Linked DNA regions of Homo sapiens. The protein of the gene in region 7 purifies or fractionates together with the protein of the main gene of each other region. This does not show direct contact. Each region holds a gene or a part of one and is shown on either strand. Other genes may lie near its edges. The genes, in order: FBXW11, PPP1CB, INCENP, UBAP2L, LSM14A, ZC3H18 and NUAK1.

Region 1 (3,500 bases), on a different chromosome or scaffold from region 7:
TGGGCACAAGTCCCTTATCAGATACATGATTTGCAAATATTTTCTCCCTTTCTGTGAGTTGTCTTTTCACTTTTTTGATGGTGTCCTTTGATGCACAAATGATTTTAATTTTGATGATGTTCAATTTATCAAGACTTGTATAGTTTCAGTGCTTATGTGTAGGTCCTTGATCCATTTTGAGTTAAATTTTTGTTTAAGGTATGAGGTAGGGGTCCAGTGCCATTCTTTTACTTGTGGAGATCTATTTATCTATCCCATTCAGCTACAAATGCAGCTGGTAAGATAATTCAGGGCACTCTGGTTGCTGTGTGTCTCCTTATTTGTCTAATAATATGTTTAGCTGTCTATGAACATCTAAGTCAGATACCACAAAAGAGGGGATTATTTATTCTGCATACATACAATTAGAAGTAATGTGTCAAAACAAATGGAGCTGTTCCAGAAAATATGCTGGAAAAGAGGATGATATGAAAGGTGAGACTTTTTGTTTGTTTTTTGAGACAAAGTCTTGCTTTGTCACCCAGGCTGGAGTGCAGTGGCACAGACACAGCTCACTGCAGCCTCAACCTGCTGGGCTCAAATGATCCTTTCACCTCAGCTCCCTGAGTAGCTGGGACCACAGGTGCATGCTGCCATGCCCAGCTAATTTTATTTTTTGTAGAGATGGGGTTTCACTATTTTGCCCAGGCTGGTCTCGAACTCTTTAGCTCAAGCAATTCTCCTGTCTCAGCCTCCCAAAGTGCTAGGATTAGGTGTGAGCTACCGTACCCAGCTGGAAGCTTTTTTATTACATTAGCTCCATGGGGTTTGAAATGTCAGCTGGTGTAAAAACATAAAATCTGGCCCAAACTCTTTCCTCCAGGTAAATGAGCGTTTGAACCATTCAGGAGATGTTCTCTTTGTAAAGATCTCAAAGACTGGAGACTTCACTTCCCTCCGTGTTTCATTCCAGTGTTATTACTCAGCAGCCAAGAAAATTTTATGCTGTCTAGTCTGCCCCCCAGCCTCCCAACTTTGAGTTAGAGGACACCGTATTTTATAATCACATATTTGGGTCATTATCAGAAGCTCTGTCTTTTTAAGAAAGGTATATTGTGAGAGGACTTTCCTGTGTTCATTCTTTAAAATACTGTTAATTTGTTATACAGGTCTGGAGCACGAGCACCTGTGAATTTGTTCGTACTCTCAATGGGCACAAGCGGGGCATTGCCTGTCTCCAGTACAGGGATCGCCTGGTTGTTAGTGGATCATCAGATAATACCATTAGGTGGGTAGAAGTTGGTGTGCTGACAGAGCAGGCTGATTTTTGCCACATTGTTGACTCATCTCCTAGTTCTAATGCTCAAAACAACTCAGGGTAAATGGGATGTTTCAGATAAGAAAGCTTTAGGTAACTTTTAGAAATGTATTTGGGCTCTGTATACTCAAGTGGGAAAACCGTGTGTGCCCTGGGTGTTCTTCCAAGATTCCCCCAGTACACAAAGTTTTTTAACCTCAGCTCCACCTGGGATCACTTAATACCAGAGCACTTCAGAACAGGCTAGGGTGCTGCAGTGCAGCCCAGCTCGCTCCAATTTCCCTCACCTGTGAGCTCCCACCTCCCTACCTAACACATGGGAGTGTACTTTATTTTCCTCTCCCAAGACTGCATCTGTTCCTGCCAGGTCATTTACCTCTCTTTTTCCTTCCCAGCACTCGGCCTCCCTGCTTTCTAATAAATCTGACTAACCTTAGACATTTTGTATCTTACTAAGAACATCCCTTCAATATCTACTTCATTATCCCATGCCATTTCCCCACTGTCTCAACACACTCTAGTGGCATTACATAAGTGACTAAACTTAACTTTGGTTTATAATCAAATTGACTAATGTTTGGTCAAAATAAAGATAGGATTCAAGATTATTAAAAAAAGTTTTTTGTTTTTTAAAGGCAGGCAAGCAAACACATGCTAGTAGCTTTACATAAGTGACTAAACTTTGGCGTTTATAATTGCCTAATGTTTGGTCAAAATAAAGATTGGGTTTAAGATTATTAAAACTTTTTTTTAAGGCAAGCAAATAACAAAAAAGCTATTTAAGTTTGCTTTATCACTTTAGGCTTCAAGATACCATAAATTTAGTTTAGAGCTTAAATCTTGATTCTCTTATATTCATCATGCTTTGTGGTATTGCTTAATGTTTCATCAATAAACAGTTCTTAACTTCCTCATTGGAATTGTCAAGGTTTTACAAGATAGTAATGTGTATTACTCTCCAGCTTATAGAAGGGAACTACTTTGGAGTCATAGTGGCAGTACTGAATGGCTTTGATCACAGATTAGAGATGCTATCATCACGGGTACTAAGAAGATTTGCTAAGGGCAGCTGTAATAAAATACATTCTTTGGATGTATCATAGGAATTACTGGTAGAGAGGCTAAGAAAAAGTTATAGAATTAATTTGCTCACTTTATTTTGTACATGCTAACTAGCTATGATTTTTTTCTACAAATACTGTAGAAAATCAGTCATAATAGGAAAAAAGATCTCTAACTCCAGAATTGTTACATAAATCATATGCAGAGAAAAAGACTTGGTGTTGTCAATGGGTTTATATTTCCACCAGAACACTGCGTGTACCTAGTAAGTCTCCCACTCTGACTTTGTAAACCGTCAATCCCAGTATTCAGCATATAGTATCAAGGAAGGGGTATCCCCAAGCCTCATCAAGAGACAGCCACCTCCCCTGCTGGTCCGCCAGTTCTAACCTCAGTGGTCCTTATGGACTCCACTGTGCTAGAAGTGCCTGGGGCGGAAGCTTAACCCCCTGGCTGTACGTGATATCTCCTTTCCCACCTTGTCTCATCTGTGCTCTTTCTCCTTTACTGCCTACAATCCCTGTCTCCCCAGAAGAGTCTTTCCTACACCATTTGTCTACATGGTTTTTATCAACTCAGACATCAAGAGAATGCCTAAGGATTAAATAGAATTGAAGTTTCTTGTTTGTTGATTTTATTTAAATAGTAATACAGACGCATGATTAAAAACAGTTTCAAATCATATAAAAGGAAATAGAATAAAAAGTAAGGCTTCTTCCTAGGTTAGTGCTTGGAAACACACAGATGGTATAAATGTACACATACAGCTTTATATGTGTGGTGTGTACTGGAAGTGAGATAGAAATAAAGAGCTCCAAGATAGTGAAAAATTGTATCTGTATGGAACAGATATAAAAAACTTACGGATAGTGTGAATCGTGTGTGGGAATTTGTTTCACAGAGGTCTGTTTTTCATTCAAGGCTCTGGGATATTGAATGTGGTGCCTGTTTAAGAGTCCTAGAGGGACATGAAGAATTGGTCCGATGCATCCGGTTTGATAACAAGAGGATTGTCAGTGGGGCCTATGATGGGTATGTCTTTCAGATTTTCAGATGTACTGCTATAACTGTATCAAGAAGAAAGAGAAATGTTATATATTAAGCAACTCTGTATGTACCAGGTCCTATGGTAGGTTTCTGT
Region 2 (3,500 bases), on a different chromosome or scaffold from region 7:
AAGCATACAACAGTGTTAAATCACTTTTCACCATTTTATCCTACCTAGAAATACCTTTCCCTCTCAGCACCAACACTGATATGTCAAACCAGATTATAAACGCTGAATAATGGGAATAGTAAAGAAACTGTTATACGTACTTACATACAAGAATAGTGGTTATATGCAATAAACAGAAAGTGGAGGAAACAGTATCTGTCACATACTTACAAGAAAGCCTTCTCAAAATTAGTATGGGGAAGTTCCAGGACTCAGTGGCACAAAGAGCTCTCTGTTAGTATTTCCTAGCTCAGGTTTGTACTAAGCAATAATGACGGCTAACATTTTCTGACCTTTAATGTGTCAAGAATTGTTTGAAGGCACTTACTATCATATATGCAGAAGAAACTGGGGCTGAAATACACCCAGAATCTGTGTCGTTAATCATTATATAAGATGGCATCCCAATGTATCAATACTTATTAATATTTGAGTAAACACTTAACTGAGTAAACATCTGATTATCATTCAGGATTCACATAATTCTAGTAGTTGGGAGTCCGAAATTCACAAAAGCTATTCCTTTCTGTCATCTAAAATCAGACCTCACTCTTTCTCACTGACAGGTTTGCAAGTTTCTCCCCCTCAGAAGTCTGGTCTCGGCCGGGCGCGGTGGCTCACCCCAGTAATCCCAGCAATTTGGGAGGCCAAGGTGGGCAAATCACAAGGTCAGGTGTTCGAGATTTAGTGAAATCCCATCTCTACTACTAAAAATACAGAAAATTAGCTGGGCATGGTGGCAGGCGCCTGTAATCCCAGCTACTCAGGAGGCTGAGGCAGGAGAATCGCTAGAACCCAGGAGGCGGAGGCTGCAGTGAGCCGAGACTGCACCACTGCACTCCAGCCTGGACAACAGTGTGAGACTCCATCTCGGAAAAAAGAAAAGGTCTGGTCTTTTTGTCTCGCTAGTTTGGCTCAAGTATTTGATAGTAATTTAAATAAAACGCTCAATTCAAACCACATTGAGGAAACATACAAGTACCTATAAAGATTCCTTCTTAATTTACTATTTAAAGTTTTAAAATACGTGATTACAACTGCTAGATATGACATTAGTGAAAGCTATGTAACACCCAATATACCTAACCTTTTATTATGAAAACTTAGATTTTGATTTCTCCAAATCTTGAGAATGAGAGGTAGGACTAGGGGGAAGGTTAAAATGGTGTCAGACAAGTCCAGTTATGCATCATTTACCAAAGGGAAACTTCCTGAGAGATGCACAGTGAGGTGATTTTGTTGTTGTGCAAACATCACAGAGTGGACTTACACAAACCTAGATGGTATAGTCTATTGCTCTTAGGCTACAAAGCATGATGCACAGTATGTTACTGTACTGAATACTGCAGGCTACTGTAACACAATGTGCTTGTATATCTAAACATATCTAAACACAGAAAAGGCACAATGTATATACAGTAATAAAGATAAAAATATTTTTCTTTCTTCAAGAATAAATTAACCTTTGCTTACTTAACATTTTTTACTTTAGAAACTTAAAAAAATTTTTAAACATTTTGAATTTTCTAGTAACGATTAGCTTAAAACAAAAGCATATCATACAGCTGTACAATATTTTCTTTATATCCTTATCCTATTAAGCCTTTTCCTATTTTTAAAAATATTTTTCACTTTTTAAACTTTTGTTAAAAACTAAGCCATATACACACACATTAGCCTAGGCCTACAGAGTCAGGATCATCAGTAACACTATATTCCGCCTCCACATCTTCACTGGAAGGTCTTCAGGGGCAGTAACATGCATGGAGCCATCACCTCCCAGGATAACGAAGCTTTTTTTCCTGGAATGCCACCTGAAGGACATGCCTGAGTCGGTTTTAACTAGTTTTTTAAAATAAGAATATATTCCAGGGCCCTGCGTAGTGACTCAAGCCTGTAATCCCAACACTTTGGGAGGCCGAGGCAGGCGGATCACCTGAGGTCGGGAGATCAATACCATCCTGGCTAACACGGTGAAACCCCGTCTCTACTAAAAATACAAAAAATTAGCCAGGTGTGGTGGTGCACGCCTATAATCCCAGCTACTCAGGAGGCTGAGGCAGGAGAATCACTTGAACCTGAGAGGCAGAGGTTGTGGTGAACTGAGATCGCGTCACTGCACTCCAGCCTGGGCAACAAGAGCGAAACTCTGTCTCAAAAAAAAGAAAAAAAAAAGGTAAATATATAACATAGCTGTTTATTACCATTATCAAGTATTATGTACTCTATATAATTGTGTTATACTTTTTTTTTTTTTTTTTTTTTTTTTTGGAGATGCAGTCTCACTCTTTCGCCCAGGCTGGAGAGCAGTGGTGCAATCTTTGCTCACTGCAACCTCCACCTCCCAGGTTCAAGTGATTCTCCTGCCTCAGCCTCCTGAGTAACTGGGATTACAGGCATATGCATGCCACCAAGCCCAGCTAATTTTTGTATTTTTAGTAGAGATGGGGTTTCACCATGTTGGCCAGGCTGGTCTCGAACTCCTGACCTCAAGTGGTCCACCTGCCTTGGCCTCCCAAAGTGCTGGGACTACAGGCATGAGCCACCACGCGTGGCCTGTTGTACTTTTACACAACTGGCAGTGCAATAGGTTTACACCAGCACTACCACAAACAAGAGTAATGCATTGCACTATGACATTATGCCTATGATGTCACTAAGTGACAGGAATTTCTCAGTTCCATTCTAATCTTACAGGACCACTAACTACCTTACATGAAGTCCACTGTTGACCAAAACATCATTTGACAGAACATATGACTATACTCAAACCAAGAAAGTGTTTTGGTCACCTTGCAACTGACCAGATGGGAACTTCTGTTACTTAGGGATATTCTGATTAACATTCTTAGAATAAAATTCCTTTATGGTGAAATATGCTATGTTAAAACCTCCCAATTATGCAAGGGTGGGCATGCATCAAAAAGCAAACGCTATTCCCTCTGGGATATGCACATATCATCAATATCTCCACTTGTCTTTGCACAGATGCAGGTAAATTTGGCAAGGGAGGGTTCTGAGGCCAGTGATGTTCACGAAGGTTATACATACTCTCACAAATCACTGTGCTCCACATGTGAATAGTGCAGAGGCAGAATAAAGGACAACTGCCCCCGCCCTTTTTCCTACTGTATGACAAGTACCCATCTAGACCAAGGACTGACTTCCTCTATCAAATCAGGAAAAAACTGGCTACTGGTTATTTATACTTGAATAAGCCTTGAAATGGCTATTTAAAGCTGCTAGAAGCAGTGGCTGCTGCCTAAGGGTATCAATCTGTATCCAATCACAAATCCTAGAAGACTCCACTGGGAATCCCCATCTACCACACCACTGCTAAACCTACTGACATTTACAAACTATTTCTTCCCCTTGCCTCCCTATATGCCACCAACATTCGAGAATAACCTTTCAGAAATACATAACAGAATTTAAGTCAGTATTTCTAAGAATCTTAACAT
Region 3 (3,500 bases), on a different chromosome or scaffold from region 7:
TAAGCGCAACACTCCCCTGCGCATGGACCCCAAGGTGAGGGGCCTGTGCCCAGGCCGGGCTTTGTGGGAGCTGGGCAGTGTGGCTGAAGGTCCAGTCTGTCCTGTAAGATACTGGGAGTAGTGTGAGCCTGGGCGGAGGCAAGTGTGGCCTGGCACTGTTAGGGGCCGGTTGAAGCCTCTGTGGCCACCGGCTGTCTTGACCTCTGAGGGCACTGTCCTGCACTTGACCTTGTGGGCTCTGGACTACAGCCTGGAGGCTTGGCCGGCTCAATGTGAGCCCTGGGGATCTGTGTAGTTAAGGTGAGAGGTACTTGTGGACACCTCCACCACTGGGGTGAGGGTTGGGTGACAGGAGAGGCGGTGGGGGTGCTGCTGGCAGGAGGGCAGGCCCCACGCAGGCTTGCTGGCACAGCTGGGCATGTGGCCTGCCCGGCAGGATGCTCCCCGGCCTGGCATTAACTCTTGCCTTTTCCCTTGTCTCCTCCACAGTGCAGCTTCGTCGTAAGTAAAGCCTTTTCCTGTCGGTAACCTCGCCCCACCTAGCACTCACCCGCTGTAGCCCCTTCCCTGCGTAGCTGACAGCACCTGTAGATGCACTAACATTGTAAGCGGGAGGGGAGCCTTAGGAAGAGAGTGGGACGGTGAGGGGTGCACTGGCTGGAGGCGCCCAGCAGTTCTGGGCCCCAGCGTCCTTCTCTGCCCTCCCTGCCCTTGACTCTGCTCTTAGGAGGAAGCAAGGGGGTGTGGCTTTTCACCAGGGCTACAGCTTGATGTGTTCTCCACAGCCACCTTCCCTCCCTCCTCCCCTGCACCAGGCCCCGTCAGGGTCTGTGGGTCTTTGAAGAGAACAGACAGGTTGTCTGTGGTCCCCAGAGCTACTGAGATTTATTGGTTCACAGACCTGAGCAGTAGCCTTGAGGCAGTGGGGTGATGGGGGAGCGCAAGTGTGGGTCTGAACTGAGGTGGAAGTGCTGGGTCTTGCTGTGCTGGGTGACAGTAGAACAGTGGGTGGTAGCGTCTAGAAACAAGTCGCAGAAGCTGTTCTCTTCTCAGACACCTCAGAGCTGAGCCGAGCCAGGCAGGCCCTGAGCAAGGACCCTCAGATGGGGACATGCTTAGCCTGCAGCCCCAGCTCCCTGTGCCATTTGCCAAGGCCACAGACACCTCATTCCTTTAGTTCCTGCAAGCCTTCTGAAGGGTCCTCTGCAGCCACACAGGGACACCTGTGACAGCCGGGAGGGCTTCTGCCTCCAGTTGAGGGCCTCGGCAGGTGAGAGGGGCTTCCCAGCAGCTGGCCAGGTGGGCCCTGAGCTGGCTTCTCCGCATGGAGGCCTGTTCCCCTCTTGTTGGAGAGGGTGACTGACAGTATACCTTCCAGTGGCCTTACCACCTGTGCCGATTAGAGCCCTGCAGGTCTCACAGGGTGATAGAGAAGACCAGGAAGTGGTCCCCTTTCCTGCTTTGGGGATCCCAGGTCCCTGCACAAAGCATCTAGTGGGTGGGGACAGTCCATAGTTAGGAGACCAGGGGGCTACGGAGTCATTTTGGACTGCATCCTGAACATTCTGCTATGAGTCTCTGGGTCTTGTTTAAATCTATGGACAATGTTGATATTTTCTCAGCATTGCAATTTAGTAGCAATTGACCTGGTTAGGTTTAGGCTGCAGGTTCCCATCTGCCTTCTGTGGACTCTGGTTCCAATGTTAGTCCCGATTTTGAAGATGGCAGTGCTGTTTGGACTTTTCCCGGGTGTGTGCCAGTCAGCAGTCAGCCTGGGACTTGGCAGGTGGTCTGTTAGTTTAGTTCTCAGCCTTCGGTGTGGTAATTAGGATCAGATCCTAGCATCTGCAGCTTAGAGCTGAGCCTGGGCGTTCGTCAATAACCTGCAGCATCATTTTCCCGATCTCCTCTGGGGCTCCCTTTTCTGTCCTCCAGCCAGGAAGCTGGGGCTTCAGTTACCTTGTTCTGCTTTGTGTGCTTCTACGACTGTGTCCAGGGCCACCTGCCAGGGGGACAGGGAAAGAACAACACATAGGATTTGGCCACACTTTTGGGATCACAGCTCCTCCTCTGAGTTTTGACTTGGCAGCTTTCTCTGTCCAGGGTCGCCTGGCAGGGGGACAGACAGAAGAGCAACACACAGGGTTTGGCCCACACTTTTGGGATCACAGCTCCTCCCTCGAATTTTGACTTGGCAGCTTTTCTTCAACTGCTGCTGCCCCTGGTTGCCATAGGACTGCTTGTGGGCTGGGGCACAAGGCAAAGAAGAAAAGAGAACAAACAAAAATGGGATTTCTGCCTTCTCTGAGCATTAGATACTCCCTTTCTGCTGCTTGAGTCAGGACTAGAGGGCTTGTCCTGGAATTCTTTCTGTCCGTGCCCCAGTGACTCCTTTGGAGTTCCAGGCTGTGTTGAGTTAGGCTGGAGAAAAACAATGGAGAACTCACTGCTGGTTGGCTGGTGCTTCCAAGTCTGGTCTTCTTCCCTATCTGCCTGCTCCTCTTTAGTTTTCAGAGGCCTCAAGTAGCCGCTCCTTGCATTCTGTCCAGGTTTTGTAGCTGCATTCAGTGGGAGAGAGAGGTGGAGTATGTCCACTCCATCTTACCCGTTCCCGGGACCCCTTCTCTCCGTCTTTGGGAGGATGGTATTACCTTGGAGCCAGATTTCTAGGCGAGAGTGCTCCTCCAGTTAGGCTCAGAAGCCAAGGAGAAATCGATAGTAACCAGTACAGGAAGAGGGGGAAGCTATTGGACACTGTGCCTAAAGGTGGGAGTCTACTGGGAGCCAGGTTGGGGTGATGGGTGTGGGGCTTCCCTCTGGGTCCCAGCCTCCACCCAGCCCCAGACTGTTCAAGGGGAAAGCACTAGCCTTGTCCTTGGCCAGGGAGGGCTTAGAGCCCCTGCCCATCCCTGCTGGCTGCCCATTGCTGTGGCTGTGCCCCTGGGACTTTCTGTGTCTGCCCAGGAGGGGGTGCCAGCATCAATCAGCTTTTCAGCCAACTAGTACTTTTTTAAAGTTGCCTTAAAAATGAACATAGCCAGCTGGGTGTGGTAGCTCACACCTGTAATCCTAGCACTTTGGAAGGCCAAGGCAGGCGGATCCCTTGAGGTCAGGAGTTCAGCACCAGCCTGGCCAACATAGTGAAACCCCACCTCTACTAGAAATACAAAAATTAGCTGGGTGTGGTGGCACATGCCTGTAGCTCCAGCTACTCGCGAGGCTGAGGCACGAGAATTGCTTGAACCTGGGAGGTGGAGGGTGCAGTGAGCCGAGATCGCGCCATTGCACTCCAGCCTGGGTGACAGAGCAGACTCTGTCTCCACACAAAAAAAAAAAAAGAAAAAAAAGTGCATAGCCATGTCACAGGAAGTTTGGAAAATAAAAGAAAATTAATACCATCCCTAATCCATCTCACTAGACTGTTAGCATTTGTCAATATTTCCTTTTATTTTTTTCAACTATTATGAAATAGTTGATATACACAATAGAATATATGTATA
Region 4 (2,696 bases), on a different chromosome or scaffold from region 7:
CAGAAGGCACAGTACACTTGAAGTCACATATTCAGGTCTCAGTCTCAGCTCTGCTCTTATTTAAGAACTGTGTGAACCTGGGCATACTACTCAATCTCTTAGCCTCAGTTTCCTCAGATATAAAACAGGGATGCTACAAACCTGTTGTAAAGACCAAATAGGCTGGGCATGGTGGCTCACATCTGTAATCCCAGCACTTTGGGAGGCCAAGATGGGTGGATCACACAAGGTCAGGAGTTTAAGACCAGTCTGGCCAATATGGTGAAACCCCGTCTCTACTAAAAATACAAAAATTAGCCGGGCATGGTGGCGGGCGCCTGTAATCCAGCTACTTGGGAGTCTGAGGCAGGAGAATCACTTGAACCTGGGAGGTGGAGGTTGCAGTGAGTCAAGACTGTGCCACTGCACTCCAGCCTGGGAGACAGAGGGAGACTCCATCTCAAGAAAAAAAAGAAAAAAAAAGGCTGGGCGCAGTGGCCCATGCCTGTAATCCCAGCATTTTGGGAGGCCAATGCAGGCGGATCACCTGAGGTCAGGAGTTTGAGACCAGCCTGACAAACATGAAGAAACCCCGTCTCTACTAAAAACACAAAATTACCCGGGCATGGTGGCACATGCCTGTAATCCCAGCTACTTGGGAGGCTGAGGCAGGAGAATCGCTTGAACCCGAGAGGCGGAGGTTATGGTGAGCCCAGATCGCACCATTACACTCCAGCCTGGGCAACAAGAATGAAACTCCGTCTCAAAAAAAAAAAAAAAAAAAAAAAAAAGACCAAATAAGAGGATGGAATGTGGAAGCACTTTGTAAAACTGAATGTCATATGTGAACATCATGAAATCCGAACTTAGAACTCCAGGCTGGGCATGATGGCTCACATCTGTAATCCCAGCACTTTTGGGAGGCTAAGGCGGGTGGATTGCTTGAGCCCAGGAGTTCGAGACGAGCCTGGGCAACATGGCAAAACCCTGTATCTACCAAAAAACAAAAATACAAAATACAAAACAAACAAAAAACAAAAATACAAAAATTAGGCAGGCCTGGTGGTGTACACCTATAGCCCCAGCTACTCAGAAGGCTGAGATTCCACCACTGCACTCCAGCCTGGGTGACTTCTTGAGACTGTCTCCAAAAAAAAAAAAAAAGGCAAACCAATAGTGTCCCTACCCCTTCCAATATTCCTTACAAAAATAGTAACTCCGCTGGGTGCAGTGGCTCACGCCTGTAATCTAGCACTTTGGGAGGCCAAGGTGGGCAGATCATGATGTCAGGAGTTCGAGACCAGCCTAGCCAAGATGGTGAAACCCCGTCTCTACTAAAAAATACAAAAATTAGCAGGCGCGGTGGTGGGCACCTGTAATCCCAGCTACTCAGGAGGCTGAGGCAGGAGAACCGCTTAAACCCAGGAGGCAGAGTTTGCAGTGAGCCGAGATCACACCACTGCACTCTAGCCTGGGTGACAAGGCAAGACTCCATCTCAAAAAAAAAAAAAAAAAAAAAACTCGTTGGATATTTCAAAAGAAATAAACACATACTGAGATATTTGAAGTGCTGAAGGTCTTGTGCATGAAGTGCCCCCCCAGACCCCCAGTGCTTTATAGCAAACTTTAAGTATTTATGGTGATGGGGGATAAAAGCAACATAACAAACCTGTGGATCACTCAAATGCTTCATTAGTTACTAGGTCGTCTCCTTTCCCACTCCCACTGTTATAGATTTACTCAAAGAATGGAATGAACTAGTTTCCTGTCACTCTCATACTTATTCTCTTGAAAAGTTATGAAAAAGGTTGGGAGTAGGTAGGAAAAGGGGCCAGGAGAGTTGCACAGTAAATTACATGACACGATAAACAATTTGCCACGCTTTACCTTCCTATTACGTTTCTCGTTTTTTTTCTCAGAGGGCTAAATTTTAACTTCTTAGAGGAAGTGAAGTCTAGAGAAGACCTTTCATTTAGAAAAAGTAGGATGGGTTTCCTGCCACCTCTCCTAGGGTTCTTCTTGTCCACTGTTATTTCTACCATTGCAACTCCACCTCCTCTATGTCTATCTCTTTTCCACTTTTATCCAGAGCCAGGCACCTACCTGGGTTTTGGAGTACACAGAACCCGAGATATCTGGCACGCCCGTGTTACTGGAGGTGACTGAAACACCTGGGGGAGGAGGAAACAGACAGGAGGATTAGCTCAGCTAGCTACCTGGCCCTTATTCCTGAGATGAGGTGATATCTGTAGCCTTTCTAGCTATACCAATGCAAGGGAATTTTGGTCGGTTTTCCAGCTTCAAGTTAGTCCTGAGAGGTAAGAGTTCATGAAACAAAAGCTCCCTAAGGGTTCTTTGGCCCTTCCCAGGTACGTGTTGAGTATACGTGAGAGAGAGTGAGGTAAGTTGTTTTTTGGTGGGCAAGGGGATATGACCAAACCTCACTAGCATACACTGTTTTCAAAACACTTCTGTGCCAAAGTCTAGCAGGAATATAATAAACTTTTAATTTTAATGTCCATTTCAAATCAATCCACCCAAATGCCACTCAGTTTTATTCCTGGAGACTGGGGCAGTCTGGCCCTCTCTCTTCCTGAAGTGACATTTCTGGGCTCAAAATCCATGCCTCCACTGCATAAGTACTAGAGGAGCAGTCCACTTTAATCCCCAAGGGCACTCTCATTCTCAGAGCCTCAGCTCAATTAGTCCAGCTTCTT
Region 5 (3,500 bases), on a different chromosome or scaffold from region 7:
AATCAAACCAAACCAAAAAACAAACAAACAACAACAAACCAGTGTGATCACATTTGTGAATTCCAGGAATAGAGAATTCTAAATAAAAGCTTCCAGAGAGAAAAGTGACTGAGAGTCAGACTGGCATCAGCAACCCCAGAATATTAGAAGAACAAAAAGCAGTAACTTCAAAGTTCCACAGAAAAAAGACTCTTAATTTGGAAATACATAGCCAACCAACCAGTCAAGCACAAGAAAACATAGGTTCACTAAGAAAATTTGTCACCTACATTTCCCATATATTTTATTTTTTAATTACAAAGATTCACTCAAGTAAAATTGGGAGGAGGAGAAAGAATCAACTGAGAGGTCAATATTGGAAACAAGAAACAGGAATCTGAGTATCTCTGAATAGACTAGTGAGAGATAATGGACCAGGGTAGTAGGGGTGGTCAGAGGTCAAATTCTGCATCTAGTTTGAAAGCAGAGCTGATAGGTTCGGATCACATGAGGTGAGACAGAGAGAGAGGAATTAAGGATGGCTCCAAGGTGTTTTGGTCTTACCAACTAGAATAGAGCTGTCATTTGATTAGATGGGGAAGGCTGATGGAGGAACAGGTTTGGAGCATGCTGAATTGAGATTCTAGCAGACTTCCCTACAAGTAGAGATGTTAAAGAGGCAATGGATATACAAGTCAGGAGTTCAGAGGAGAAATTCAGGCTAGAGATAGGAGTCAGTGATATACAGGTAGTATTTGAAACCAGGAACTAGATGGATGAGATCATCAAAAGAATGCAGATGATTAAATAAATGTTAACAGACAGAGAGAAAAGGGGAGATAACTGAGCCCTGGAGCTCTCCCAACATTTGGCGGCTTACAGGTTCAATCAGCCAAGGAGATTGAGAGGTAACCAGTGAGATATGAGGAAAAAAATGGCATACGATCAAGTTAAGAAAATGCTTCACAGAGAACAGACTAACTGTACCACGTAATGCTGACTGGTGAAGTAGAATGAGACTAAGAACTAACTACTGGATTTGGTAACATGGAAATCTTTGGTAATTTTGATAAGAAAACTTCATATGTAGGAATAAAAACCTTAGTAAACAGGGCTCAAAAATGAATGAACACCAGTGGTGTAGACAACTTCTTCAAGGGGTTTCGCTATAAAGGGAAGGATAGAAATGGGGTAATCATTAGAAAAGAGGAAATTCAGTTCAAGTACAGTGGGGTTTTTTGGTTGTTCTTAAGGTAGAAGAAATAACTGCCTATCTGTAAGCAGACAGAAAGATACGTTAGGGAAGGAAAAACTGAGGAGAGTAGAGAACTGCTGGAGCAATGTTCTTGAATCACCAAGAGGGGACAAATGCTGCACAAGTGGAAGGGTGGTCTTAGACAGAAATAAGAACAGTTTATCCATATTGATCAGAAAAAAACATAGAAGTCTGGGGAACAGATGCAGGTAACTGGGTATGTGAGGGGTAAGTTTATCAAAATTATCTTTCGTTTGCTGTTCTTTTCTCAGTTAACTGCTATAGAAAGCACGGTTAAGGGGCTGAAAGTGAATATGGGGGAGGTGTTGGAGGCTTGAGGAAAATGAATGGAATAGCCATGTAGAAAAGTGAAATGGATTATGGAAGTATAGTGTGACTGCTAGGAAGTGACCATGACTGCGGAGGCTAGCGAACATAAATTTAGAGTGAGGCTGGTCAGCACATCTGTGTTGATATAATCAGGGTTGTGATTTCTTGTATAAGACAGCAAGAGGGGAATGGGGTGGGGGCTGAGGGAATGTGTACTGACTGTCGTGGTTGCTCATGGAGTTGAAGCAGGATAAAGAAGGAAGTAAAGTTATGAGGGGAATGAGAGGACAGTGAAAGGCAGTAAGATGACAGTAGACTACAGTAGGTGTGAATGACTGACTGAGTTGGGCTACTAGAGAGACTGAGCACCTAGACAGAGAGGGAGATCGTGGTGGGAAATAACATGGGACAGCTATTCTCTATTAAGCACCAACATTAAACTAGTTACTTCTTTTATATCACCTCATTTAATTATCAGAATGACTCTGAAAGATGGGCATTATTATCCATCCCTATTGAAAAGATGAAGAAGTTAAAGCTAAGGTTAAATAACTTGTCCAAGACCAAAAAGCTGCTAAGTATTCCAACTGGCATTTTGGGTCGCATTTTCTTCCAGAAAAAAACAAACAAACAAAAAACCCTACAAAACTAGAATAAGGCCCTTGGGAATAAATTATTTTACAGACCAACTCACACTTTGTCCACTAAAAAACTTACTTCAAGCCAGACACTGTGGCTCACACCTGTAATCCCAGCACTTTGGGAGGCCAAGGCAGGCAGATCACTTGAGCCCAGGAGTTAGAGACCGACCTGGGCAGCATGGCAAAACCCTGTATCTACAAAAAACAGAAAATTAGCTGGGTGTGGTGGTGTGTGCCTGTGGTCCCAGCTACTTGGGAGGCTGAGGCAGGAGGATTACCTGAGCCCAGGGAGGTCAAGGCTGTGATCGTGCCACTGCACTCCAGCCTGGGCAACAGAGTGAGACTCTTGTCTCAAAACAACAACAACAAAATTTACTTCAATGGTATCTAGTTTTTAAAACAGCTAATTAATATATTATTTTATAGCATCATGAGAGAAAGACAAATTGTTTCTATAGCAAGCATCTTCTAGCACGGAATAATTAAATTCAAGTTAAACTATCTGTAGTTACTGCTATTATTACTGTGGCACTGAGTTAAATACAAAACTCCTGCTATGTATCATGCACAGATAAGATTTCTTTTTTCTTCCTACTTCCTTCCTTCTACTATTTTTTTTCTTCAGTTTTATGCTGTTTTCTTTACTTCCGACTTAGAAAATCATGGCTTACCTTACTTACCCCTACTAGAAAATGAACAGTTTCTGGCACCTGACTTCAGACTCCCAGAATTACCAAGTATTTCTGCGGACTATGTAACAATAATAAACTGTTTCCAAGGCTCCAAGTACTGGCAACATCACTAAATAGGGCAACAAAAAGAAACTGTGGCTTGAAGTTTCACTAGATCTTTGTCATTTTAGATAGTAATTTTGTGAATTGCTAGATTTAGATCCCCAAGTAATGCAAGAAATCAAATAAAGCACCCCGCAAGTATTTTATCCATCACACAAAGCTCTTCCACTCTCTCCAATAAGGTAATAGTTTATGACTATGTGACTAACATCAAGAAGTAGATAAATTATGCCAATGAGCCAGACTTAGCAGATGATTAAAGAAATCTGTTAACAATTTACTTGTTTTTCTATTCTTCCACCAATCTCTTGATTTTAAGAACAACTTATTTTAAAGGCAAGTGGCTTATATAATCGTTCTTCATAAAGTCTCTTTTCCCAGTGCAGTAGCAACCTGGTTTCCATTTGAATGATTATCCAGGTAAGCTAACTAAATGTAAGAATTTATTTTTTATAAGAATTTCATTCATTTTAGCCTATTTAGGCATCCTACTCACTTATA
Region 6 (3,500 bases), on a different chromosome or scaffold from region 7:
CGCGATCTCGCTACCTCCGCCTCCCGGATTCAACCTCAGCCCCCTGAGTAGCTGAGACTACAGGCGCACACTGCCACGCCCAGCTAATTTTCTGTATTTTAGTAGAGATGGGGTTTCACCATGTTGCCCAGGTTGGTCTCAAACTCCTGAGCTCAGGCATTCCACCCACCTTGGCCTCCCAAAGTGCTGGGATTACATGCGTGAGCCGCCGCACGCAGCCTAATTTTGTATTTTTAGTAGAGACTGGGTTTTACCACGTTTCTGATCTTGAACTCCTGACCTCAGGTGATCCATCCGCCTCGGCTTCCCAAAGTGCTGGGATTACAGGTGTGAGCCACTGCACCCAGCCCAGAAATTTTTTTTAATTAGCTGGGTATAGTGGTGTGTGCCTATGATCCCAGCTACTTGGGAGGTCAAGGTTGAATGAGCTGTGATCACGACATTGCATTCCAGCCTGGACAACAGAGATCCTGTCTCAAAACAAAAAAAAAGGATTTTTGCTATTTAGTTGTTTTAAAAGAAAGTATTAAATCAGTCCTTAGATTCCTTGCATAGAACTCTTTCATTTCCAGGCAGCAGGTCGTTTATATATTTGTCACAGTTCTTTGTTTCTTTTGTTTGTTTTGTTTCTGGAGAGACATGGTCTTGCTGTGTTGCCCAGGCTGGTCTCAAACTCCTGGGCTCAAGTGATCCTCCCACCGTGGTCTCCCAAACTCGTGGGATTATAGGCATGAGCCACCGCGCCTGGCCTAAATGTTTCTTAATAAGTCTGAAATGTTTTAAAGACCTGACTTTTGAAAAAAAAAAATGGTTCTCTTACATTCCCCCGTTCCTTGCTCCGGTACCCAATGTACCTGGAAGACGTGGTTGGTGTTTTCTCGAGCAGCATATGGGCAGGGCAGACTCAGGTGCCAGTCCTGTGTGCTTTGTGTCCGTGTTGAGTGCACGCCAGTGAAGCTACAGACCTGCTGTTTCCAGTCTGTCTGCCGTGTGTTCCTCAGGCATTCCCTGAGACTGCGGAATTGCTCCTTGTGTTTTTAATTTCCCTGTGGGCTGAGGCTATCTCCCTTTTGTCTAAGCCAGGGACTCTGCTTAAATTCCATCCTTGCCGCTGTTGAGTCAGCTCAGTCCTGTTTCCCTTCCCAAAAAGCAACCTGACATTCGTTTTGTTTTTTGTTTGTTTTGAGACGGAGTTTCACTCTTGTCGCCCAGGCTGGAGTGCGATGGCATGGTCTCGGCTCACTGCAACCTCCACCTCCCGGGTTCAAGCGATTTTTTTGCCTCAGCCTCCCCAGTAGCTGGGATTACAGGCGCCTGCGACCACGCCCGGCTAATTTTTGTATTTTTAGTAGAGATGGGGTTTTACCATGTTGGCCAAGCTGGTCCCGAACTCCTGACATCAGTTCAGCTGGGTCTCAGACCCCATTGCTCGTGACGAGATCTGCCCATCTCAGTCTCCCAGAGTGCTGGGATTACAGGCGTGAGCAGCCGTGCCTGGCTGCAACCTGACATTGATTAGTGAAATGGGGCCCTGGCCTAGCCATGGGGACGTCCCTTACTTTGTAACCCTGAAACTGCCCAGTGTCCCCCCAAAATCACACATTCCGTGGGTACATGATCCATAAATGGACACTGCGTAAAAGTGGACCATGGAGCACCCCCTGCTGGCCCCTCCCTCCAGTCTGGCTGGGGTGTGGTGAGATGTGCTTGTGTGTCCAGGTCCCTGAGCGTGAGCAGCGTCTCCTCAGTGTCCAGTGCTACGTCGAGCAGCAGCTCTGCACACAGCGTGGACTCGGAGGACATGTACGCAGACCTGGCTAGCCCCGTGTCCTCAGCCAGCTCTCGGTCCCCGGCCCCAGCCCAGACCAGGAAGGAGAAAGGTACTCAGGAGCCCTGGTACCTTTGGGGAGCAGCTCCCGGGGGAGGAGGGCGGCATCAGCACAGACTTTGCCTGGCTGTTGGTGTGGCCATGGGAAAATCACCAGTACCCCCATGACTGCGGATTTATCATTGGTAGGAAAATCTAAGAAAGAAGACGGTGTTAAAGAGGAAAAGCGGAAAAGGGATTCGTCCACACAACCACCCAAATCTGCAAAACCTCCAGCAGGGGGGAAGTCCTCCCAGCAGCCCTCGACACCCCAGCAGGCACCCCCCGGGCAGCCCCAGCAGGGCACATTTGTGGCCCACAAGGAGATCAAGTTGACACTGTTGAATAAGGTGAGGGCAAGGGCCCTCCTGGTGGCTGCCCCAGCGTCTAGGCCTGGGTCCATCTGCTTCCTGAGACAGCTTCCTCCTGGGGGACGGAGCCTGAGTGAGGGCGAGTGGGGCCTTGCAGGTGTCAGCACAGCCTGGGTAACAAAGCGAGACTCCATCTTTCCGGCCTGGGCTGGGAAGTGTGAGCATCTGGGGAGGTTTGGGTGCTGCTGGCCTCTCTCTGAACAGAGAGGGCGTTCTCTTCGTGCCTGTGGCCGCCATTCCCTGCCATGCAGTCTCAACACAATACAGGAAGCCTCCGTCCCTGTCCTCTGTCCTCAGCAGGACACATCCCTGTCCTCTGCTGGAAGGGCAAGAGGCCTGGCTTCATGGGTCCCAGGTCCTCCTAGAGTGGCCCCCGTGGGGAGCAGGAAGGCCTGCAGGGTGCTTCCCCTGGAACGTGAAGGGCCCCAAGTGCACAGTGGGGGTGCCCTTGGTCCGGGTCCTGGAGGCCTCACTCAGGGCTACGGGGTCTCATGGGTGTGTGGTGGGACCTTTGGGAGCAGAGCAGGTTGCTGGCAAGGAACCCATGTCCTCTGGGGCGAGGACACGGCTTCTGGCTCCTGGCCCTGCTGTCCTCACTGGCCTCTCTCTTGTCCCAGGCGGCTGATAAAGGAAGCAGGAAGCGCTATGAACCATCAGACAAGGACAGGCAGAGCCCTCCTCCAGCCAAGCGGCCCAACACATCCCCAGACCGAGGTGAGCCTCCCAGCCCCTAGGGGGCAGGGCAGAGGGACGGGAGCCTGGGGATGCGGAGCAGCTGGGTCTGAGACCCCATTGCTCTTAACAAGTAGGAGGAGGGTCCAGAGAACATCTGACTTGCAGATGATGCCTGTCGGTATTTAGGGTGTTGAAAACTAAAACGAAGAAAAGGTTTTAAATATTTGTTTAAAAATAACAGGACCGGGCGTGGTGGCTCACGCCTATAATCCCAGCACTTTGGGAGGCTGAGGCCGGCAGATCACTTGAGGTCAGGAGTTCCAGACCGGCCTGGCCAACCTGGTAAAACCCTGTCTCTACTAAAAATACAAAAATTAGGCCGGGCGCGGTAGCTCATGCCTGTAATCCCAGCACTTTGGGAGGCCAAGGTGGGCAGATCATCTGAGGTCAGGAGTTTGAGACCAGCCTGGCTAACATGGTGAAACCCTGTTTCTACTAAAAATACAAAAAATTAGTTGGGCGTAGTGGCGTGCGTCTGTAATCCCAGCTACTTGGGAGGCTGAGGCAGGAGAATCGCTTGAACCTGG
Region 7 (3,500 bases):
TGTGACTGGCTGAACAGAAAATAACACCAAACAAACAAAAAATTGGTCAACGAGTTGTTCTTGCCCATACAGTGCCTGGTGACTCAGAACCTGTTAAGAGCAGTAAGACATTTTCATCTAAAATATGAACTTGGAGTTTTCTTCTGGTACCAGCGATGTGCTAAACATTCACAACATGCTTTGAAGGTGCAGTTGAGGAGAACTGAAAGGGCACTATCTTAATTTAGCCTTTTGATCTTTGGGTAGAATTTTGAAGTGATGTTTTATTTTCATTTGCACCAGTGCCTTTTACAGCATCTCTCAAGAGGAGCAGTGGTTCTAACGTGTTTTACTAATGTGAGTGGCCCAAGACAGGTGCCGAGTATGGGGTTGTATGAAATGCTGTGAAATCAACATCCCTGTTGAAAGCAGGGGTTCTTCTCAGAGAGGAGAGAAGTTTCTAAAAAATGAGGATGTGATGGTTTTTAATTGCATACCTGGAAGGACCTTCTGAATAAAACAAAACACAACACAGCATCATTTTCTATGTGCCGCGAAAGGCAGTTCTGAAGAGAAGTGCAGAATGAGATGCTTGGAGTCAGCTGGTGCGACCCTGTGTGTCGTCCAGGCACTCTCCTGCAGTCTTGCAGCCTCTGCTAAAGCATGTCCGTGAGACCAGGACTCAGAGTGGCTTGTTCCAGAGATGAACAAGCTCAAAAATGAGGCACTCTTGCAGAAAGGCAAAGAGCCCTGGCTTACATTCAAATCCTTGATCTATCCCCTACTAGCTTTGTGTCTTTTGGCAAGCTATGTGACTTTTTGAAACCTCAGCTTCTTCATCGGTAAAATGAGCTACTAAGAGTACCAACTTCATAGACTTGTGAGAACTGAATACAGTGATCTATATAAAACCTCAAAAGGGGACATTAATCAATTTAGTTCCTCCTTTTAGCAGATTTTTTTTCTCATCTCATTTTAGGATTTCATTAGATTTTAAGACCATCAGAGAGACAATGCATTGTATCATGCAGAGAGAGATAGAAGAAATAATCAACTTTTCAGAGTAATAAAATAAATACCAAATTAATTAGGGAGGTGTGTCCATAGGAAGATGAGATAATTAGCCAGATTCAGATAGGATCTGAACACATTTCTCAAGTCTTGAATTTGGGCCTTGTTTATTGCACAACTTTGGTTTTGATACAGTTTTGGGCAGGCCTACTGGGTGAGCCTCTGTGTCATAATTCGGCATGCATTTTCTTTGAGCTAAGCTCCCTGGACCTACAGGCCACACAAAGCGTTGCCAAAAATCCCAAAACCAAAGCCACACAATTTTATGTCCTGTGATCACCTCGATGTCAAGGGGCCAAGTTCAACTTCCTCACTGTACCAGGTTATCTCTAGTGAGCAGTAGGTGGTGTGGTGTGAGCTGGAGGCAGGGTCCCTGGGGGGGAGTCTGGGATGGGAGTGGCAGGACTGGTGGGCAATGTGTGCCCCTCCCCCACAGTCTGCCCTGGTGCCCCTGGCCACTAGAGCATTAGCTTGGGTGATGGGGCATCCTCACCTAGCAAGCCAAGTGTTTTGACCAAAAATGGGTGTTTTAAGCACCCAAAGCTATTCATAGCCTCCTGCTGGAAAACTGCAAATCAGGGAGGCAAATTAGCAAACTGGCCTGCCAAGCCAGGAGGTGTGTTGACGTCACATGCACGGTGGCAGAAGTGCCATGTTGCAGCTAAGGCCCAAATACAGTTTTAGAGTGTAAGGGACCATGGCAAACATGTGGTTCAAACTTGTCATCTTCGAGGTGGGACCAGTAAGGCGCAGAAGTGTTAAGTGACTTTGTTGAGGTTGCACAGGTCTTGAATGACGGAGCTGGATCTTAGAAACCCGATTCTTGGTTTGGTATTTTTCCATCACTCATTTAATAAATCTTTACTAGAGAAAGACATGGGCCTCACTCTTAAAGAACTTATAATCTAGTAGCAAAGGTGAAATGTACTTGCAAACTAATTCTGTTCAGTTCGATGAAGATTTATTGCCATCTGCCATGTGCTACTCACCATGTTAAATGCTGAGACATAGAAATGAGTAAGACCCAGGGAGCTTCCAGCCTGGTGAAAGAGAAGGCAGAAGTAGTTACTAGGCATGAGTAACTCTTCCATAGAGGATTGTTTCAGGTGATTTTCAAGTTGGACAACAGTTCATTGAAGCTTAGCTCATGAAAGTGAGTTTGATCCTGGACAGAATCATATTTCTACTGCTACCATTATTTACTACCAGCTGATATTTTTGAGAGCTTGTGGTGCATCCCACTGTGCTAAGTGCTTTAGAGACATTTTCCCTCACTTAACTTTCACAGCAACCCTGTGAGGTGTAAAATAGTGAGACCCATTTTACAGATGGGGAAAATGACACATAGGGAGGTTAGGTAACTTGCCAAGGGTCAGACAGCTGGATGGTGTTTGTTTGTTTGGATGGAGTTTGTTTGGAAACCCAATGCTGCTAGAGGAATTGAGAACCTTCCTTAATGTTGCACAGCTGGTGACCTCTGGATTTGGGTGTGGTTCTTTGCTAATGGTGCCAGAAGAGCAGCCATGGGGTGATCGCCCACCCTTCCGGAAGGGTATCTAGAGGAGGGGCCAGGGTATACTGTGGGATTAGAAAGTGTTCTCCAGCTAATGGGAGGACAAGTGCTGTTGAAAATGACCCTTGATTTGGGTTTCAGAGGATTGGAATGTGGGGCATTCCAAGGCATTCATTCACTTGTGTTTGGGGGAAGGTGAATATTCCAGGTGGCTTGGAATGCAGGGTTTGTGCTGGGACACAATGGGAGGGCAGGATTGGTAAGGTAAGATGGGGGTAATAATAATAATTGATGCTAATGCAAATAATAGCAACTAATACTTCTTGAGTGCTTATAACATGCTAGGTGCATGTTAACTGATTTAATCCTTATAACAATTCTGCTATCATCCCATTTTCTAGATGAAGAACCTGACTCACAGAGAGGTTAACTAGCTTGCTCAAGGTCACAGGCAGCAGCAGAGCCAGGTTTGGACCCAGGCAATGTGAATGCAGAGACCTTGACCTTAACTCTTCCTCTAGAGGGGTCTGAGCTGGGTTCTGATCACAGTGGGGTGTTGAGCCCGTCAGTTTGGTGTGCTGGCTTGGAGCAGGGAGTTTTTGCAAGAGTTGAGGTTGGGAAGATAAGAATCAGAGCCAAGTTAGGGAGAAGAGATGTGCCTGCTTCTGGTGAGCCATCTGTTTGTTGGTCTGTTTGTTGGACCTCGAGGAGTTTGTTGTAATGAATCAGGTCAGGGAGCTCTTCACCTGGACACATACAGAGTCCTTTGTTTCCCAAGCAGCCTCAGACCCTGGAGTCCCTAGGGGGCTTTGAGGGGTAAGCTGGTTCACTTCCCTGCCTGCAGACAAAAATGCCCCCACACCATGCCAGTGTGTGTTGATCTTGCTTCCTCCTGGGAAGCAGCAGGAGATAAGGGTTTGAGTCAAGGTATCTTGTC

What was found.
Region 1: the proteins of NUAK1 (region 7) and FBXW11 purify together in Homo sapiens (affinity purification with mass spectrometry; 5 studies listed by BioGRID and IntAct, with this or other methods). This does not show direct contact.
Region 2: the proteins of NUAK1 (region 7) and PPP1CB purify together in Homo sapiens (affinity purification with mass spectrometry; 2 studies listed by BioGRID and IntAct, with this or other methods). This does not show direct contact.
Region 3: the proteins of NUAK1 (region 7) and INCENP purify together in Homo sapiens (affinity purification with mass spectrometry, with the first as the bait; one large-scale study listed by BioGRID). This does not show direct contact.
Region 4: the proteins of NUAK1 (region 7) and UBAP2L purify together in Homo sapiens (affinity purification with mass spectrometry; one large-scale study listed by BioGRID and IntAct). This does not show direct contact.
Region 5: the proteins of NUAK1 (region 7) and LSM14A purify together in Homo sapiens (affinity purification with mass spectrometry; one large-scale study listed by BioGRID and IntAct). This does not show direct contact.
Region 6: the proteins of NUAK1 (region 7) and ZC3H18 purify together in Homo sapiens (affinity purification with mass spectrometry; one large-scale study listed by BioGRID and IntAct). This does not show direct contact.

The regions. Positions count from the first base shown.
Region 1 is NC_000005.10:171,870,639-171,874,138, reverse strand, and holds part of FBXW11 (F-box/WD repeat-containing protein 11), read left to right. Parts: intron 1-1,148; coding exon 1,149-1,267; intron 1,268-3,280; coding exon 3,281-3,391; intron 3,392-3,500.
Region 2 is NC_000002.12:28,758,330-28,761,829, reverse strand, and holds part of PPP1CB (serine/threonine-protein phosphatase PP1-beta catalytic subunit), read right to left. Parts: intron 1-3,500. UniProt on the Homo sapiens protein: Protein phosphatase that associates with over 200 regulatory proteins to form highly specific holoenzymes which dephosphorylate hundreds of biological targets.
Region 3 is NC_000011.10:62,141,011-62,144,510, forward strand, and holds part of INCENP (inner centromere protein), read left to right. Parts: coding exon 1-34; intron 35-489; coding exon 490-501; intron 502-3,500. UniProt on the Homo sapiens protein: Component of the chromosomal passenger complex (CPC), a complex that acts as a key regulator of mitosis.
Region 4 is NC_000001.11:154,265,955-154,268,650, reverse strand, and holds part of UBAP2L (ubiquitin-associated protein 2-like), read right to left. Parts: intron 2,151-2,696; coding exon 2,083-2,150; intron 1-2,082. UniProt on the Homo sapiens protein: Recruits the ubiquitination machinery to RNA polymerase II for polyubiquitination, removal and degradation, when the transcription-coupled nucleotide excision repair (TC-NER) machinery fails to resolve DNA damage.
Region 5 is NC_000019.10:34,179,004-34,182,503, reverse strand, and holds part of LSM14A (protein LSM14 homolog A), read right to left. Parts: intron 1-3,500. UniProt on the Homo sapiens protein: Essential for formation of P-bodies, cytoplasmic structures that provide storage sites for translationally inactive mRNAs and protect them from degradation. Acts as a repressor of mRNA translation. May play a role in mitotic spindle assembly.
Region 6 is NC_000016.10:88,625,903-88,629,402, forward strand, and holds part of ZC3H18 (zinc finger CCCH domain-containing protein 18), read left to right. Parts: intron 1-1,719; coding exon 1,720-1,880; intron 1,881-2,017; coding exon 2,018-2,217; intron 2,218-2,855; coding exon 2,856-2,952; intron 2,953-3,500.
Region 7 is NC_000012.12:106,132,455-106,135,954, reverse strand, and holds part of NUAK1 (NUAK family SNF1-like kinase 1), read left to right. Parts: intron 1-3,500. UniProt on the Homo sapiens protein: Serine/threonine-protein kinase involved in various processes such as cell adhesion, regulation of cell ploidy and senescence, cell proliferation and tumor progression. Phosphorylates ATM, CASP6, LATS1, PPP1R12A and p53/TP53.